Homo sapiens: one gene and its partners. The protein of the gene in region 1 interacts with the protein of each later gene in a biochemical or structural test. Each region holds a gene or a part of one and is shown in the gene's direction. Other genes may lie near its edges.

Evidence for each region. The genes of interacting proteins can lie anywhere in the genome.
Region 2: the proteins of RNF168 (region 1) and JMJD1C form a complex in vitro, tested with the Homo sapiens proteins (one study listed by BioGRID).
Region 3: of the proteins of RNF168 (region 1) and DHX9, one has a biochemical effect on the other in vitro, tested with the Homo sapiens proteins (one study listed by BioGRID).
Region 4: of the proteins of RNF168 (region 1) and KDM4A, one has a biochemical effect on the other in vitro, tested with the Homo sapiens proteins (one study listed by BioGRID).

What each region holds. Positions count from the first base shown.
Region 1 is NC_000003.12:196,479,419-196,483,395, reverse strand, and holds part of RNF168 (E3 ubiquitin-protein ligase RNF168), read left to right. Parts: intron 1-3,977. UniProt on the Homo sapiens protein: E3 ubiquitin-protein ligase required for accumulation of repair proteins to sites of DNA damage. Acts with UBE2N/UBC13 to amplify the RNF8-dependent histone ubiquitination.
Region 2 is NC_000010.11:63,207,249-63,211,225, reverse strand, and holds part of JMJD1C (probable JmjC domain-containing histone demethylation protein 2C), read left to right. Parts: intron 1-1,990; coding exon 1,991-2,163; intron 2,164-2,424; coding exon 2,425-3,977. UniProt on the Homo sapiens protein: Probable histone demethylase that specifically demethylates 'Lys-9' of histone H3, thereby playing a central role in histone code. Demethylation of Lys residue generates formaldehyde and succinate.
Region 3 is NC_000001.11:182,845,599-182,849,575, forward strand, and holds part of DHX9 (ATP-dependent RNA helicase A), read left to right. Parts: intron 1-3,977. UniProt on the Homo sapiens protein: Multifunctional ATP-dependent nucleic acid helicase that unwinds DNA and RNA in a 3' to 5' direction and that plays important roles in many processes, such as DNA replication, transcriptional activation, post-transcriptional RNA regulation, mRNA translation and RNA-mediated gene silencing.
Region 4 is NC_000001.11:43,691,401-43,695,377, forward strand, and holds part of KDM4A (lysine-specific demethylase 4A), read left to right. Parts: intron 1-95; coding exon 96-172; intron 173-855; coding exon 856-911; intron 912-2,593; coding exon 2,594-2,702; intron 2,703-3,308; coding exon 3,309-3,494; intron 3,495-3,977. UniProt on the Homo sapiens protein: Histone demethylase that specifically demethylates 'Lys-9' and 'Lys-36' residues of histone H3, thereby playing a central role in histone code. Does not demethylate histone H3 'Lys-4', H3 'Lys-27' nor H4 'Lys-20'.

The sequences.
Region 1 (3,977 bases):
CAGGTAGACAAAGGTGGCGTGATTGAGTTTCACCACAACACCCCTCCAGGGTCAGGTGCCAGGTGGAGTTGGTGGCTTTACGCAAACATCAGCTTTCCCATGGTAACTCACAGTTGGAAAAGTTTAAAAACCACAGTCTAGACTTGAAAAATACATAAGGACTTCTGGTTCAACTGAGGAAATATGTGCAGGTAACTCATCTCCTTCCAAGATTTGTTGAAATTTTGTATTTGAGGTGGGAGGAAGCTTAGGAGAAGAGAATGTTAAATGAGGGAGGTACTATTAAAAAAAAAAAAAGATGTGACAATATCAGTGTCGCCAGTACTCATAATGTGCAAAGTAAAAATGAGAAAACCGCTAAAATGCAGAAGTATTTCATATTGATACAATATGCTGTTTAAGGCTATAACTCATGAATCTTTATATATCTAAATATATACTTTGAAATACATAAAAATAAAAAATTACCAGAGATACAAGAAAAACTAAGGATTTAAAAGCAAAAATTGAGAAACTGATGGATTAAAGTTGTAACAATATTAAAAACAGATAAAGTCTGTTTTCTAGAATATATGAAAACTCTTATAACTCAACAACAGAAGACAAATAATTAAAAACTGGACAAAGGGACTTGAGTAGACATTTTTCCCATGATGTACAAGTGGCCAATAAGTACACGAAAATATGTTTAACATCATTAGTTATTAGGGAAATGCATATCAAAACCACAGTGATATAGCATTTCATACCCATTAGGATGGCTATAATCCACAAAAAGGGAAAATAATAAGTGTTGACAAAGATGTGGAGAAATTGGAATCCTTGCGCATTGCTTGGTAGGAATGTAAAGTGGTATCGTGGCTGCAGAAAACAGTTGGTGATTCCTTGAAAAGTTAAACGGAATTAGCATATGACCCAGCAATTCCACTCCTAGGTATGTACCCAAAAGAATTGAAAGCAGGTATTCAAACAAATACTTGTACATGAATATTTGTGTCAACATTATTCAAATAACCGAAAGGTAGAAACAACCCAAATGTCCATTAACAAATGAATGGGTAAACAAAATGTGGCATTCCATTTTATGTGAATTACACCTCAATTCAAAAGTTTAAAAATGAATAACAGGATTATATAGTTTTAAAATTAAGAAAAATTTCTAAACAACTTGTTGATTAAAGAGTAAATTTTGTTGGAAATACAGAACTGAAAATATGCATGAAAACTGGTATGTGGCTAAAGTGGTATTTAGAAGGCTTTACGTGCCGTATCAGAAAAGAAGAAAGGGCAGCCAGGTGTTGTGGCACGTACCTGTAATCCCAGCTACATGGGAGGCTGAGGCAGGAGGATTGCTTAAGCCCAGGGAGTTTGAGTTTGGGACCAGCTTGGACAGCATAGCAAGATCCTGTCTCTAAAAAAAAAAAAAAAAAAAAGCCAGGGACAGTGGCTCATGCCTATAATCCCAGCACTTTGGGAGGCTGAGGTCTGAGGTGGTAGGATTGCTTGAGGCCAGGAGGAGTTCAAGACCAGCCTGGGCAACATAGTAAGACCCTGTCTCTACACAAAATAAAAAAATTAGCCAAATGCAGTGGCACATGCCTGTAACCCCAGCCACTTGGGAGGCTGAGGTGGGAGAATTGCTTGAGCCCAAGAGGTCGAAGCTGCAGTGAGCTATGATCATATCTCAAAAAAAAAAAAAAAAAAAAAAAAAAACGCAGCTGAAAACGTATTTAAAAAGACAATTCCAGGAATACATTGCTGGTTTAATGGTAGAAAATGAATCACTGTAAGTTATTCAATTAGCTGTATAAATATGAAATACACGAGATGATAATTCTTAATGAAGTGGTAACAGAAAGAAACTTTCTTAACCTGTTGAAGGATATCTACCAAAATCTTACATCACATATCATACTTCATAGTGGAACATCGAAATTATTTCCTTTTTTTTTTTTTCCAGACAGTCTTTCTTGCCCTGTCACCCAGGCTAGAGCGCAGTGGTGCGATCATGGCCCACTGCAACCTCAAACTCCTGGGTACAAGTGATCCTCCCGCCTGGGCCTCCCAAGGTGCCTGGATTACAGGAGTGAGCCGCCACGCCCCGCCATTCCCCTTGTAAGGTCAGGAATACGCAAGGGTGGCCTGCTACTCTCCACCTGCATTCAGACTCATGCTGGAGAGTTTAGTCTGCACAGTAACACAATAAAAGGAGATAAAACATATCAGCCTGGAAAGGAAGGAAAAAGCAGCTATCATTCTTCAGAGGCGGTATAATTATCTATGTAGAAAACCCAAAAAGTCAGAGGTACATTTTTAGAATGAAGAGTTTAGCAAGGTTGCCAGATATAAAATCTGTACAAAAAGTCAATTGTAAAATGTAACTTTAAAAATACTCTGTCGATAGTAGTATCAGAAAATAAAAGTACTTAAAAATAAATGTGTTAAAATCTGAGGCAAGCATGGTGGCTCATGCCTATAATCCCAGCACTTCGGGAGACTGAGGCGAGAGGATTGCTTGAGCCCAGGAGTTCAAGACGAGCCCGAGCTGCACAGGGAGACCCTATCTCTTAAAAAAAAATTAAAAAATTAACCAGGCATGATGATGCACACCTGTAGTCCCAGCTGCTCAGGTGGCTGAGGCAGGAGGATCACTTGAGCCTGGGAGGTTACGGCTGCAGTGAGCTGTGATTTTACCACTGCACTCCAGCCTGGGCAACAGACAAGACCATGTCTCAGAAAAATAAAAATCTGTACGACCCGTGGAGAAAATTGTATTATATTAAATATACAATATTCATGGGTTAGAAGATGCCTAATACTACAAAATGGTCAGATCTCCTCAGACTGATCTATAGAGTCAGTGCAATTCGAATCAGAATTCCAACTTTTCAAATTTTTCTTTTGAGACGGAGTCTCGCTCAGAATCACACAATACTAATCAATAAAGTGTTTAGAGATGCAAAAGTGTGGCAAATCTGTTTTAAAAAGTAAGATATAAGAAACTCAGGATAGTATGAGGTGGGAGATGACGAGGCCCCATAGGAGACTTTCAAACCAATGATTTCTTTTCCCTTCAACCAAGTAATAAGCATATGGGCTTTCATGGTAATACAGATTTTTAAACTTTTTAGAAGAATAACACATTTTTTTGTTTTGTTTTTAATGGACCACAGAGCAGCAAACATATATTTTAAAGTGCACCAGTCTTCGGCACCATAAGACAGGGTAAAAAAGAAAAAGTAAAAAATTTAAAAAGACGGTGCACCAATCCTAAGTATACTTTCTGGTGAATTTTTGTGTGTGTATAAACCACCCACCAGATGAAGACGGAATATTTACAAAGGTTTGCTTGTGCCCTTTCCCTTTCCAGTCAGTGTCCCCCTCCCCGTGACCGTGCTGTACTGTGATTCTTACATGTATTGTATGACTGTTCTCTCATAAACTTTGTTTTCATGAGGCAGACTTGGAAAGATCTTAAGACATTAGTGAAAAAAGCAAATCACAAGCCGGGCGCAGTAGCTTATGCGTGTAATCCTAGCACTTTGGGAGGGTGAGGCAGGCAGATCACTTGAGGTCAGGAGTTCAAAACCAGCCTGGCCAACATGGTGAAACCCCGTTTCTACTAAAAATACAAAAAAATTAGCCAGGCGTGGTGGCGGACGCCTGTAATCCCGCTACTGGGGAGGCTGAGCCAGGAGAATTGCTTGAACCTGGGAGGCGGAGGTTGCAGTGAGCCGAGGTCACACCACTGCACTCCAGCCTGGGCGATAGTCCGTCTCAAAAAAAAAAGCGTGAGGCTGGGTGTGTTGGCTCATACCTGCAATCCCAGCACTTTGGGAGGCCAAGGCAGGTGGATCACTTGAGCCTAGGAGTTTGAGACCAGCCTGGGCAACATGCGGAAACCCTGTCTCTACAAAAAATAACAAAAATTAGCCGGGCGTGGTGTGCCTGTGGTCTCAGATGTTTGGGAGGCTGAG
Region 2 (3,977 bases), on another chromosome or scaffold:
CTCAAAGTGCTGGGATTACAGGCATGAGCCACCATGCCCAACCATGTGATGGGTGAACTTTGATGATAAGAGGCACCAAGTGGTTGATGATGCATCTTGCATAAGGTCTACCAGTTTTGAAAGATGTTTCCTGTGGTTTATTCCTGTTGCAAACATGGACTCCTTTTGGCTCTACTTTCATATGACCTTTGGCCTTTAATGAAGTCTCACCAGTGATGCCCACAGTTGATTCTGCACCAGCATCACCACATTTGAGGTTGACAAGATCTCAGTTCCAGAATTATGCTGCCATTGATCACAAGCTTTCCATTACCATTTTGGAGGGTGCCGTTGCTTTTGTCGTAGATGGGAGTCATACTGGAACCTGTGTGTTACATAGTCAAACTCAGTGAAGAATCACTAATCACTATATTATCCTCTTTACCAGAATAGAAAGCAGGCCTGGTGACCCAAGTGCCCTACTGTACTCAGATTATTAATTCAAGGTTTCTATTTTTATTGTTGCACTCACATGTTTATTCTGACCCTTCACTCTCACGTCATTAATGTAGCTGCAGCTGCACAAAGATAAGCTAGCTAGAGGAACACAGGAGAGCCAAGAGCTGGCTAACAGATTTGTGTCTTTTTCCTTAACATCCAAACTCTTGAAAACAGATTTAAGTAACTTAAAAATGGCTTGGAAGGGAGCAATACTCAGTATGTGTCACATGTATATGGACTTAGACCATGACTGTCTAGCCTCTGTGTTTATAAGTACATAAAATATTTTATTAACTGGTCATAAATGTGTTAAACTAAAAACAAGTGTATCAGATTTTTATTTGTTATATAAAATTACAACATAAAGGAGTAAATTTGAATAACATTTTGAGGAAAAATAAAAATATCTTACCCCCTACTATTGACCAAAAGTGAAGAAACAATACAAGCATAAGACACTATTATTGAGAAATAATTTTGAATGGCATTTTATAGAGCAAAACTTTGTTGTCATTGCCATAATTGATTGCTGTTTAAGATTTCTGGATCTTATAGAACTGAGGCCGTTTGAGACACATATTTGATCCTTATGTGTATATTTATGTATTTTTCTCTTATGTGGGGTTTATGGCTATAGTGTATGTTTTTAATTTCATAGCAGTATATTTTTGGTGTGACATACTGCTTTTGCATTATTTTGAGAAGTAAAACGTATTCCCTTTGTTAGAGAAAATACAAAGGAGGTTGTATTTTCCTGCTATTTGACTATCATCCTATTAACAAATTCATAAAACATGTTCTGGAAGGATGTCAGTGAGTCAGAATATAGAAAAATCCTTAAGCATGTAGTCAGATAGCTGTATGTCTCGATGAAGAGGTTGCTGTCACCTTATATTCAGTCATGAGACAGGCAGCATATTGATGTATAAAATTAACTTTATTAGACTTCTACACCTCCAAGCTTAATGGTGCAACCTTGTTTATAGCTTAGAGTGAAATGGGGAGTGCATTTGGGTTTTGAAATGTAATTATCTGCCAATTGTCAGTAAATTGTTACATTGGAAAAGTTAAATTTTTTGATGACAAAAATTGACAAATGAATTTGGTTATAATTTCTATTTCTGATGAAATGTGTTTTAGGAATAATATTCTGTTTTTACTGTTAGCAATATACTTTTGCTGTTAGAATCAGGAAATCATATAAACTAGGTTCTGTATATGGCATTTATAGTAAATTTAAGGCACTGATTTCAAGATCTGTTTTTAGTAAGATGACAATAAATTATTTAATACTGATTATGATATGGAAAAATCTGTTTAATTATGTTATTATTTGTCTGAATATTTCTCATAAGATGTATTTAGAAAAAGTTACAAGTTTCCCAAAGAAACTGCTATTTGAATGAACTAATAAACCACCAAGATCATACCCAGTTCTACTGTGACACGGTGTTTAGCTTTTTCTAGTAACTGAAATCTAGGTGTTTTTTTTGTTTTGTTTTGTTAATAGAATTCTCCCAGTCCTTGGCTACATCAGCCCACCCCTGTGACCTCAGCAGATGGTATTGGATTACTTAGTCACATTCCTGTCAGACCTTCCAGTGCAGAGCCTCATCGGCCTCTTAAAATTACAGCCCATTCCAGTCCACCATTGACAAAAACTTTAGTAGATCATCATAAGGAGTAAGTTCACCAGTGCTTAAAAATTATAAATACCTTGTTCATAATTTTTCTTAATTTGCCTTTTAAATAGTTAATTTTAAGTTAACACATATCTTAAGATTAGGCTTTGTTCTGTTTTGATATTTCTTCAAATTTATTATAGTATTAGAGTACATGCAAAGATGTCTTTTACTTTCATAATAGAATGATATTGCATAGAAGCTGTCTTTGTATTTTGCAGGAAAAAGTGGTTACAGAAATATTTGTGTATTTTCTTTACAGAGAATTAGAAAGAAAAGCTTTTATGGAACCATTACGGTCTGTTGCATCCACATCAGCCAAAAATGACCTGGATCTAAATAGGTCACAGACTGGAAAAGATTGTCACTTACATAGGCATTTTGTGGATCCAGTATTAAATCAGTTACAGAGGCCACCCCAGGAGACTGGAGAGAGGTTAAACAAATACAAAGAGGAACACCGTCGAATTCTTCAAGAAAGTATTGATGTTGCTCCCTTTACAACTAAAATCAAGGGACTTGAGGGTGAGAGAGAGAATTATTCCAGAGTGGCATCATCATCTTCCAGTCCTAAAAGCCATATCATCAAACAAGATATGGATGTAGAACGCTCAGTATCAGATCTTTATAAAATGAAGCACTCAGTGCCTCAGAGTTTACCCCAAAGTAACTATTTCACTACATTGTCTAATAGTGTGGTCAATGAACCACCAAGATCATACCCATCCAAAGAAGTTTCAAATATTTACGGTGATAAACAGAGTAATGCCCTTGCAGCGGCAGCAGCTAATCCTCAAACTCTGACTTCATTTATAACATCTCTTTCAAAGCCTCCACCTTTGATTAAACACCAACCAGAAAGTGAAGGTTTAGTAGGCAAGATACCAGAACATCTTCCACATCAGATTGCATCTCACTCAGTAACAACCTTCAGAAATGATTGTAGGAGTCCTACCCATTTGACAGTTTCTTCTACAAATACACTCCGCAGTATGCCTGCATTACATAGAGCACCAGTATTTCACCCACCAATCCATCACAGCCTGGAAAGAAAGGAAGGCAGCTATAGTAGTCTTTCCCCTCCAACTTTAACTCCGGTGATGCCAGTAAATGCTGGTGGTAAAGTTCAAGAATCACAGAAGCCTCCAACTCTAATACCCGAACCAAAAGACTCCCAGGCAAATTTTAAGAGTTCTTCAGAACAGAGTTTGACGGAGATGTGGAGACCTAATAATAACCTCAGCAAAGAGAAAACTGAATGGCATGTGGAGAAAAGCAGCGGAAAGTTACAGGCTGCTATGGCATCTGTCATTGTGCGTCCATCTTCTAGTACAAAAACTGATAGTATGCCAGCAATGCAGTTAGCTTCTAAAGATCGTGTTAGTGAAAGATCTTCAGCTGGGGCACATAAAACAGATTGCCTCAAACTAGCAGAAGCCGGAGAAACTGGAAGAATCATTTTGCCAAATGTGAATTCAGACAGTGTTCACACAAAATCTGAAAAAAACTTTCAGGCTGTCTCACAGGGCAGTGTTCCCAGTTCAGTCATGTCTGCTGTAAATACGATGTGTAATACCAAAACGGATGTAATCACATCTGCTGCCGATACTACCAGTGTTTCCAGCTGGGGTGGTTCAGAAGTAATTTCCTCTTTATCAAATACCATTTTGGCCTCTACATCATCAGAATGTGTATCTTCAAAAAGTGTCAGTCAGCCAGTGGCTCAAAAACAAGAATGCAAGGTCAGCACCACAGCACCAGTTACATTAGCCAGTAGTAAGACAGGAAGTGTTGTTCAACCCAGTTCTGGGTTCT
Region 3 (3,977 bases), on another chromosome or scaffold:
ACCTGGAGATAGCGTCAGACTCCACAGGGTGAGGACTCAGTCCCACAAGACTCCCCAGCCCCTTCAGACACCACTTGCAAGTCTGGGCCTCTAGAACTTCTGACTGACTAGCTTCAAGTTATGGTTTTCATGACTGCCTCTTTGGGGTCAGTTAATTTGCTAGTGTGGCTCACAGAACTCAGGAAAACCTACATTTACCAGTTTATTATAAAGAATACTACAAAATACAGTTGGTGAAATAAGTAGGGCAAGATATGGCGGAGGCAGCAGGGAGCTCCCATGCCCTGCCTCGAACACCATTCTTCAGGAACCTCCACCTGTTCGGCCATTTGGAAGCCCTCCAAACCCTGTCCTTTGGTTTTTATGGAAACTTCATTATTCAGTATTGATTAAATCGTTGGCCATTGGTGACTTGACCTTCAGCCCTTCTCACTTCCCCAGAGGCTGGGAGGTGGGACCGAAAGTTTCAGCCCTCTAATCTTTCCTTGGTGGTTCTGGTGACCATCCCCCCACACCTGAAGCTACCTAGGGCCTGCCAGCCAGCAGTCAACTCGTTAGCATACAGAAAGTCTCCACTTAGGAGATTATAAGGATTTAGGATTTCTATGCCAGGGAAATGGGATTGAAGACCAGATGTACTTTTTTTTTTTTTTTTTGAGATGGAGTTTCGCTTTTGTTGCCCAGGCTGGAGTGCAGTGGCATGATCTCGGCTCACCGCCACCTTTGCCTCCGGGTTCAAGCGATTCTCCTGCCTCAGGCAGGAGTATCTGGGATTACTGGCATGTGCCGCCATGCCCGGCTAATTTTGTATTTTTAGTAGAGACGGGGTTTCTCCATGTTGGTCAGGCTGGTCTCCAACTCCCAACCTCAGGTTATCTGCCCGCCTTGGCCTCCCAAAGTGCTGGGATTACAGGCGTGAGCCACTGAGTCCAGCCAGAGACCAGATAGGCTTTAAAGATAATATGACACTGTCTACTTGCTGTTTTCTGTAAGAAGTCAGCTATAATCAAATCACTCTCTCCCATATGTAATGTGGTAGTCTGTGTTTTTAAGATCTTTTCCTGTTATTTTTGGTTTTTAGTATTTTGTGTTGTGACCGGGCATGGGTTTTTTTGTATGTGTGTGTTCTAACTTGTTCAAGGTTTGCTGAGATTATTGAATCCATAGATTTATGTATTTCACCAACTTTGAGAGACTTAGCTATTATTTAAGATATTTTTTGTTTTATTTTTTCTTCTTTCCTCTTGGTGTTTATATTTATAAAGACTTGATATCCCACAGGTCCCTGAGGCTCTCTTTTTTTTTTCCTATCATTTTTTCCACTGTTTCTCAAATTGAATAATTTTTATTGATTATCTTCAGATTCTTTGATAGTTTTTTCTGTCCCTTCCATTTTGCTAAGCCCACCCAGTGTATTTCAGACACTACCTTTTTCACTTTTAAAATCTCCAGCTTATTCTTTTCTGTATGTTTTCTCTGGTGGCATTTCTTTTCATTCGTTATAAGTGTATGTTTGTAATATAAATATGGATTTCTTTTATGTCATGAAGCTTAATTCTAATAGCTGCTTTAAAATCCTTGCCTACTACTACTAACATCTGAGTCATCTCAGGGTTGGATTCTCTTGATAGGTATATTTTCTTGAGGTTGGATCACATTTTCCTCTTTGTGTATCAAATAATTTTTTATTGCATTCTGGGCATTGGAATATTATGCTGTGGAGACTCTGAATAATGTTATACTCCTCCAAAGAGCATTGATTTGGTTTTTTTGTTTTGTTTTGTTTTGTTTTTAATCAGGCATTTAATTTAACTGGACTCAAACTGCAAATGCTGTCTTTTGGATGTTAACTCAGATCTCACCTCAGTTTTCTGATCATTTAGGACAGCCATGGAAGAGTCCTTCAGGTCTCCTTTGCTGGGCAGCTTGGAATCTGCCCTGTACATGAGTGGTTTTCAAGGGTTAGCCAGAGATTTCAATATACAGAATTCGGGGCTCCTCCTCTCTGGCTGTTTCCTTTCCAGCATTCCCTCACTTTCTAGCAGCTTTGCTTTCCCTGAACTCTAATTCTGATTCTTCAGGCCAAAAAGATGGTTTCATTGGAGGTTTAGCTGCCTGGGATGGCTTCTCTCAGGCTAAAAGCTACAGTAAACTGGAATTAGACCCTTGATACTCCGTGCTTCCCCATTTTAACTTCTCTCAAGAATCTACCTGCTTTTTTCGTTCATTTTTTATTGCCTGCATATAGTTCTGGTGTGTTGTGTGTGTGTTTGTATTTTTTCCCCCTAAAGTTTATTTTACCTGCAGGAGGGTCAGTCTTACAGGAACTTACTTGGCTACAACCAGAAGTAATCCCCTAGGTGATTTTTTTATTATTGTTTTAACATGGCTCAGGTGTTTCCTATTAAATGCTCTGTGGATTTCCTACTTTCTTCCTTATTTCCTCTGTTCCAGCTACAGTAGCTGTACTTCTTCATAGGTCTTCAAATAAGCCCTCATCTTTCTGCCTCAAAACTTCTATACCTGAAGGACTCTTCCCCAGCTGTCCTATTTAACATTATAAACATTGTCACCCTCAGGTTACTTCCTAAACTCCTTCAATGCTTTATTTTTCTCCGTAACACTTACTTTTTAACTCAGTGTTTCTCAACTGGAGACCATTTTGTCCCCTCAAGGGATGTTTGGGGATGTATGGAGATATTTTTGTTGTTGTAACTCGAGGAGGCCACTGACATCTAGAAGGTGAAGGCCAGGGATGCTGCTAATGACCTACAATGCACTTGACAAACTCCTACAACAAAGAATTAACCAGCCTAAAATGTCACCAAGATGAGAAACCTTGTTCCAACGTAATTTATTTTTGTTTCATTGTATTAGAATGTAAGTTCGTGAGGGCAGGGATTTTTTTGTTTTTAGTTCGTTGCTGTGTCTCCAACATTTAGAATGGTTCCTGGTCTATAGCAGATACTTAAATGTTTTTTGGTTGACTGAGTAAATGAATGGATGAATTTGGAAAAAAAAATTATAACAACCCATTTCTACTTTTAACCCCACTGTATTATTAGTCCATTCTTGCATTGCTATAAAATACCTGAGACTGCATAATTTATAAAGAAAAGAGATTTAATTGGCTCACAATTATGCAGGCTTTACAGGAAGTGTGGTACTGGAATCTGCTTGACTTCTGAAGAGGCCTCAGTAAACTTAGAATGATGGCAGAAGGTGAAGGGGAAGCAGGGATGTCCTACATAGCAGGAGCAAGAGAAAGTAAAGGGGAAGATGCCACACACTTTTAAATGACCAGATCTCATGAGAACTCACTCACTGTTGCTAGGATAGCAGTACCAAGGAAAGTGGTACTAAACCATGCATGAGAAACCCACCTCATGATCCAGTTACTTCTCACCAGGCCCTACCTCCAACATTGAGGATTAAAATTTGACATGACATTTGGGCAGCGATACGTAACCAAACTGTTACCAGCTACCATCTTTATCTTACCTCCTCATTCTAGGGAAATCCTTTTTCATAATCACTTATTTCATCTGGAACTTACCCTTTCATGCCATAAATTGCATTTGCCAAAAGTGAGCATGTAGAGGATATTTTAAAATTTTTTTTGCTGTGGACAATTGTAGATGTGTATAAAAGAATAATATAGTGAAACTCCATGTTTCCGTCATCTGGCTGCAACACTTTCAATTTTACTCATTTCTAACTACTCCCCTTTCTTAGATTATTTTGGAGCATCCCAGACATCTTATTCATCTGTTAATATTTCAGTTTTTAACTAAAACATAATTCTTTTTTTAAAAAAAGTATTATAATCAAACCTAAAAGAAAAATTTAAGAATAGTGTCAATATAATGAGATATCCAATTAATGTTTACATTTTCCTGATTTGGTAATGTCTGGAGATGTTTGAACTTGAAGGAGGTGTGTTGATGGCGTCTAGTGGGTGGAAGCCAAGGATGTTA
Region 4 (3,977 bases), on another chromosome or scaffold:
GTAGCTTTGGGAGGTGGTATATGGAAAGGAATTGCAAATCTACCTTTTGACTCTGACCACTGGGTTTAATTTGCTCATCTTGGTGTCCCTGTTAGGTTGCTATGGGGTCCCCCCTGCAAAGGCTTCTGAAGACTGGATGTGTTCTCGGTGTTCAGCCAATGCCCTAGAGGAGGTGAGTGATCCCACACTGTTACTGTCTTCACCATGAGTCTTGGTGCATATTCAGGGCCAGACGATTTCATGTTGGACTCAGTATTCCCAGCAGTCTGCATAGGGTCTGGTACGCGGTGATGTCAGAGAGCGAGTATTGTGAGAGTAAATCCTATGACCGTGAGAATGGTTGCTGCCCACTTACGGAGTCTGGATGCTGTGTTTGCTCCATTGTGGAAAGACCAACTAGTGGTCTTCCTGTGGAGGAACAATAACTCCCTTAAAAGAATTTAGCCATTTTGAATTGGAGCCTCAGAAAGGGGCTCAGATGATTCATTGTGCTGTTTTCTCTTCACTGTACCCCCTGGAACCTGGCTGTACCTAGCCCATATAAGAAGCAGTCAGAGCCCTGTCATGCCTCTAGTTTGAGCAAAGTATCTTTTGTGACTTTGCTAAGAGTTGTTATTAGCAGCAACAATGAAGAGGATTATGTGAAGTCACGTGACTACTTGGCACACTTTAGCCCTGAGTGGCCTCTCCTTCTGACAGGGCGTCCTGGTGCAGGGGCTGCCTGGGTGAAGCCCCACATGCTATTATGCTTCTTTCTTATGTGGAGGAGTTGCCCAAAGCAGGTCCAGGGGAGAGCAGATTGAATGTTAATGACTTGGTATTAACCACTTTTTCCTCCCTCTCCTTTCTTGGCAGGACTGCTGTTTATGCTCATTACGAGGAGGGGCCCTGCAGAGAGCAAATGATGACAGGTAAGTTTCCTGAGCAGTGCCTTGGAATGCACAGGCTCAGTTCCGAAGCACACAGTGTCTTTGTGAGGGTACTAGCTGTTCTTCTGAATGACTGATGAGGATTTGGGAAGCACATCGTGTGGAGCAGGAATAGCATCTCCAAGACTCATTTTAAAAATGGAATGCTAAGGGAGCCAAGCAGTCCCAGACTTTCCAACTCCAGCTGCTCCTCTGCAGCAGAGATGTCAGTGACATCCTCCTTTGGAGAAGCTAAGAATGGACTCATGAGAATATGAAGACGAAGATGATGCGCAGGGACTGTGTGGGCTGGAGTGAGGACATTCACCTTGTCACAGCTGGGGCTGGTATGCAGAGGCGGCCACAGGCTAGCAAGCACTTCTCCACATGGCAAACTCCCTGGCTCAGACCTGCTGTTTGGAATGAGGCGAGTGTGCTCAAGGAGGACACTGAGGAGAGCTCAGACAGGCCCACCCACTATGGAACCGAATCTGCTGAATTTTCTGGGCTTCTCAGCTGTTGGGCAGCTCGTTTTCATGGAGTGAATCTTTGTGCTTAGGCTTGTGTTTGGTTGCTCTGAGGTGGAAACGTAAGATGAATGAGGTTTCTGACCTGGAAGAGCTAGCTGTCTAGGGCATGGTGCGTGCAGGTCAGTGCTGAGTATCCTGCTTCCAAGTAGAATCCCGTGGCAACTTGCAGCATATGTTCAGTCCAGCCGCCTGCCCTCAAGAGTCCCAGTTATGCTGTCCCTGAGAGATAGCTACTCTGCCTGCTGCTTCTGCTCCTTCAAAGGCACTTGCTGCCATTATTTGAGGTCACTGGGTTCCTCACAGTCACAGGATAGTGCTGGGAACATTCTTTCTTATTTGGAGTGGAAATGGCTGTGCTTGAATCTCTCACCTTTACCTCTGAATGCCTGTTCTGCCCTCCAGGGCCACACAGAACAAATCTGTTCCCACTCTAAAAAGACAGCCCCACTAGAACTGCAGAGAGCTTCCATGGAGCCCCAGTGTTGTCTGGTGTAGGTTTTCACGTAGCATGGTTTTAAGAGTTGTCACCATTTTCGTTCTTCTCCTCTTGATGCATGCTGGTTTCCCAAAATGTCCAAAACTTACTTTAATTCTTAAGGATGTCCGTTGAATAGACCTCTCAGAGTAAGTGGGGCTTGGGTCAGACCTTAAAGATTAAAGAGTGAGTCAGCTATGGAAAAAGGGAGCAGAAGGGAGAGGTCATTTCAGCCTGGGGGAGAGGTTTGGGCAGAGGCCGAGAGAGAGCTGTGATTACTGGCAGATTAGGGCACAGCCGGGGACGTTTTCAGGAAGCACTTGGGTCCTATGGTAAAGAGGTCTGCATAGAGCTTTCCAGTTTATTCTCACTCCCTGAGACCTGCCACACACCATTAGCCTGCAGCTCTGTTCATTTTTCAACAGAGTGGTGTAAGAAGCATGATCCGGTGCTAACCTAGGGCAGTGGGCAGTGGCCTAGGTGGGCAGTGGGGGTGGCACTGCTTCCACATACTCAGAGGAGAGACGGTTCTGGTTCTCACCTTCCTGGGTCCCAGGCATGTGCTGGTGGAAGTCAGTGGTCACCCAGGTGAGGGAGGAAGCGCTGTCAGCAGGCCCAAAAGAGAAGGCCACAGAGCCTTGGGCCCAGAGGTGACTGAGGGAGCCTTTGCCTTTTGGCAGGTGGGTCCACGTTTCATGTGCTGTGGCAATTCTGGAAGCAAGGTTTGTCAACATTGCAGAAAGAAGTCCGGTGGATGTGAGCAAAATCCCCCTGCCCCGCTTCAAACTGGTAAGGGCTTGTAGACTCTACATAATTTCCCGACTTACAAGTTTCTGGGTAGAAGAGAACAGGGACCTCCTGTACCCCTTGGTTTTGGTTAGAGTTTGTGATTCTCACTCTGTGGTTAGATTCCTTAGTGGAGGCCAGGTGTGGTGGCTCACACCTGTAATCCCAGCCCTTTGTGGGGCCGAGGTGGGTGAACCACTTGAGGTCAGGAGTTCAAGACCAGCCTGGGCAACATGGTGAAACCCCGACTCTACTAAAAATATAAAATTAGCTGGGAGTGGTGGTGCGCACCTATAATCCCAGCTCCTCGGGAATCTGAGGCAGGAGAATCACTTGAACCCGGGAGGCGGAGGTTGCAGTGAGCCGATATTGTGTCACTGCACTCCAGCCTGGGTGACAGAGCAAGACTCCGTCTCAAAAAAAAAAAAAAAAAAATTTCCTTGGCAGATAAAGTTGTAACCAGACCTGGATTAGAGCAGGCTGGTGTGTCCTTGTATTTTGGGAAGGGGCTGGCTCTTGCTTGCTTGGCTTTGCATTTGGGAGGGGAACAACAGAGGAAGCTGCAGTGCCAGTTCCTGCAATCACTGGTTTTCTTCCCCTGTGCTACAGAAATGTATCTTCTGTAAGAAGCGGAGGAAAAGAACTGCTGGCTGCTGTGTGCAGTGTTCTCACGGCCGCTGCCCAACTGCCTTCCATGTGAGCTGCGCCCAGGCTGCCGGTGTGATGATGCAGCCTGACGACTGGCCTTTTGTGGTCTTCATTACCTGCTTTCGGCACAAGATTCCTAATTTGGAGGTGAGAGAGGGTGTCATTCTAGAATCCTCTTGACAGTTTTCATGGTCATTTTCTCTGCATGTTTTCCATTTGTTGTATCAGCAACTATTTCCTCAAGCATTCTGCATTATGAAGAGTGCTAATGAGTTAAGAGATTGAGAGGTGGCCCCTGTCCATCTCCACTCCCTGCCTTGTACTCCATAAGCCAGTGACACCAAACTGCTTGTAGTTGATTCGTTTTGATTATCTCTTTACTTGTCTGCCTCTCCATCAGAATAAACTCCTTGAGGGTCCATATCTTATTAATGTGGTCATCCTTATTACTTAACCTAGTGTCCGGGACATGCAGAACCTCTGAAAATGTTGAGAACAAATGGGGAGAGCTCCCAAGAGTTAACCATGAATTGCCAGACAGTAGAGATTTCTGCAGTTCTCTTAATGGTAAAGCTTAGAGAAAAAGTGACATGTAATGTTAGCTAGAGGAGCTCTGAAGAGGATTGGGTA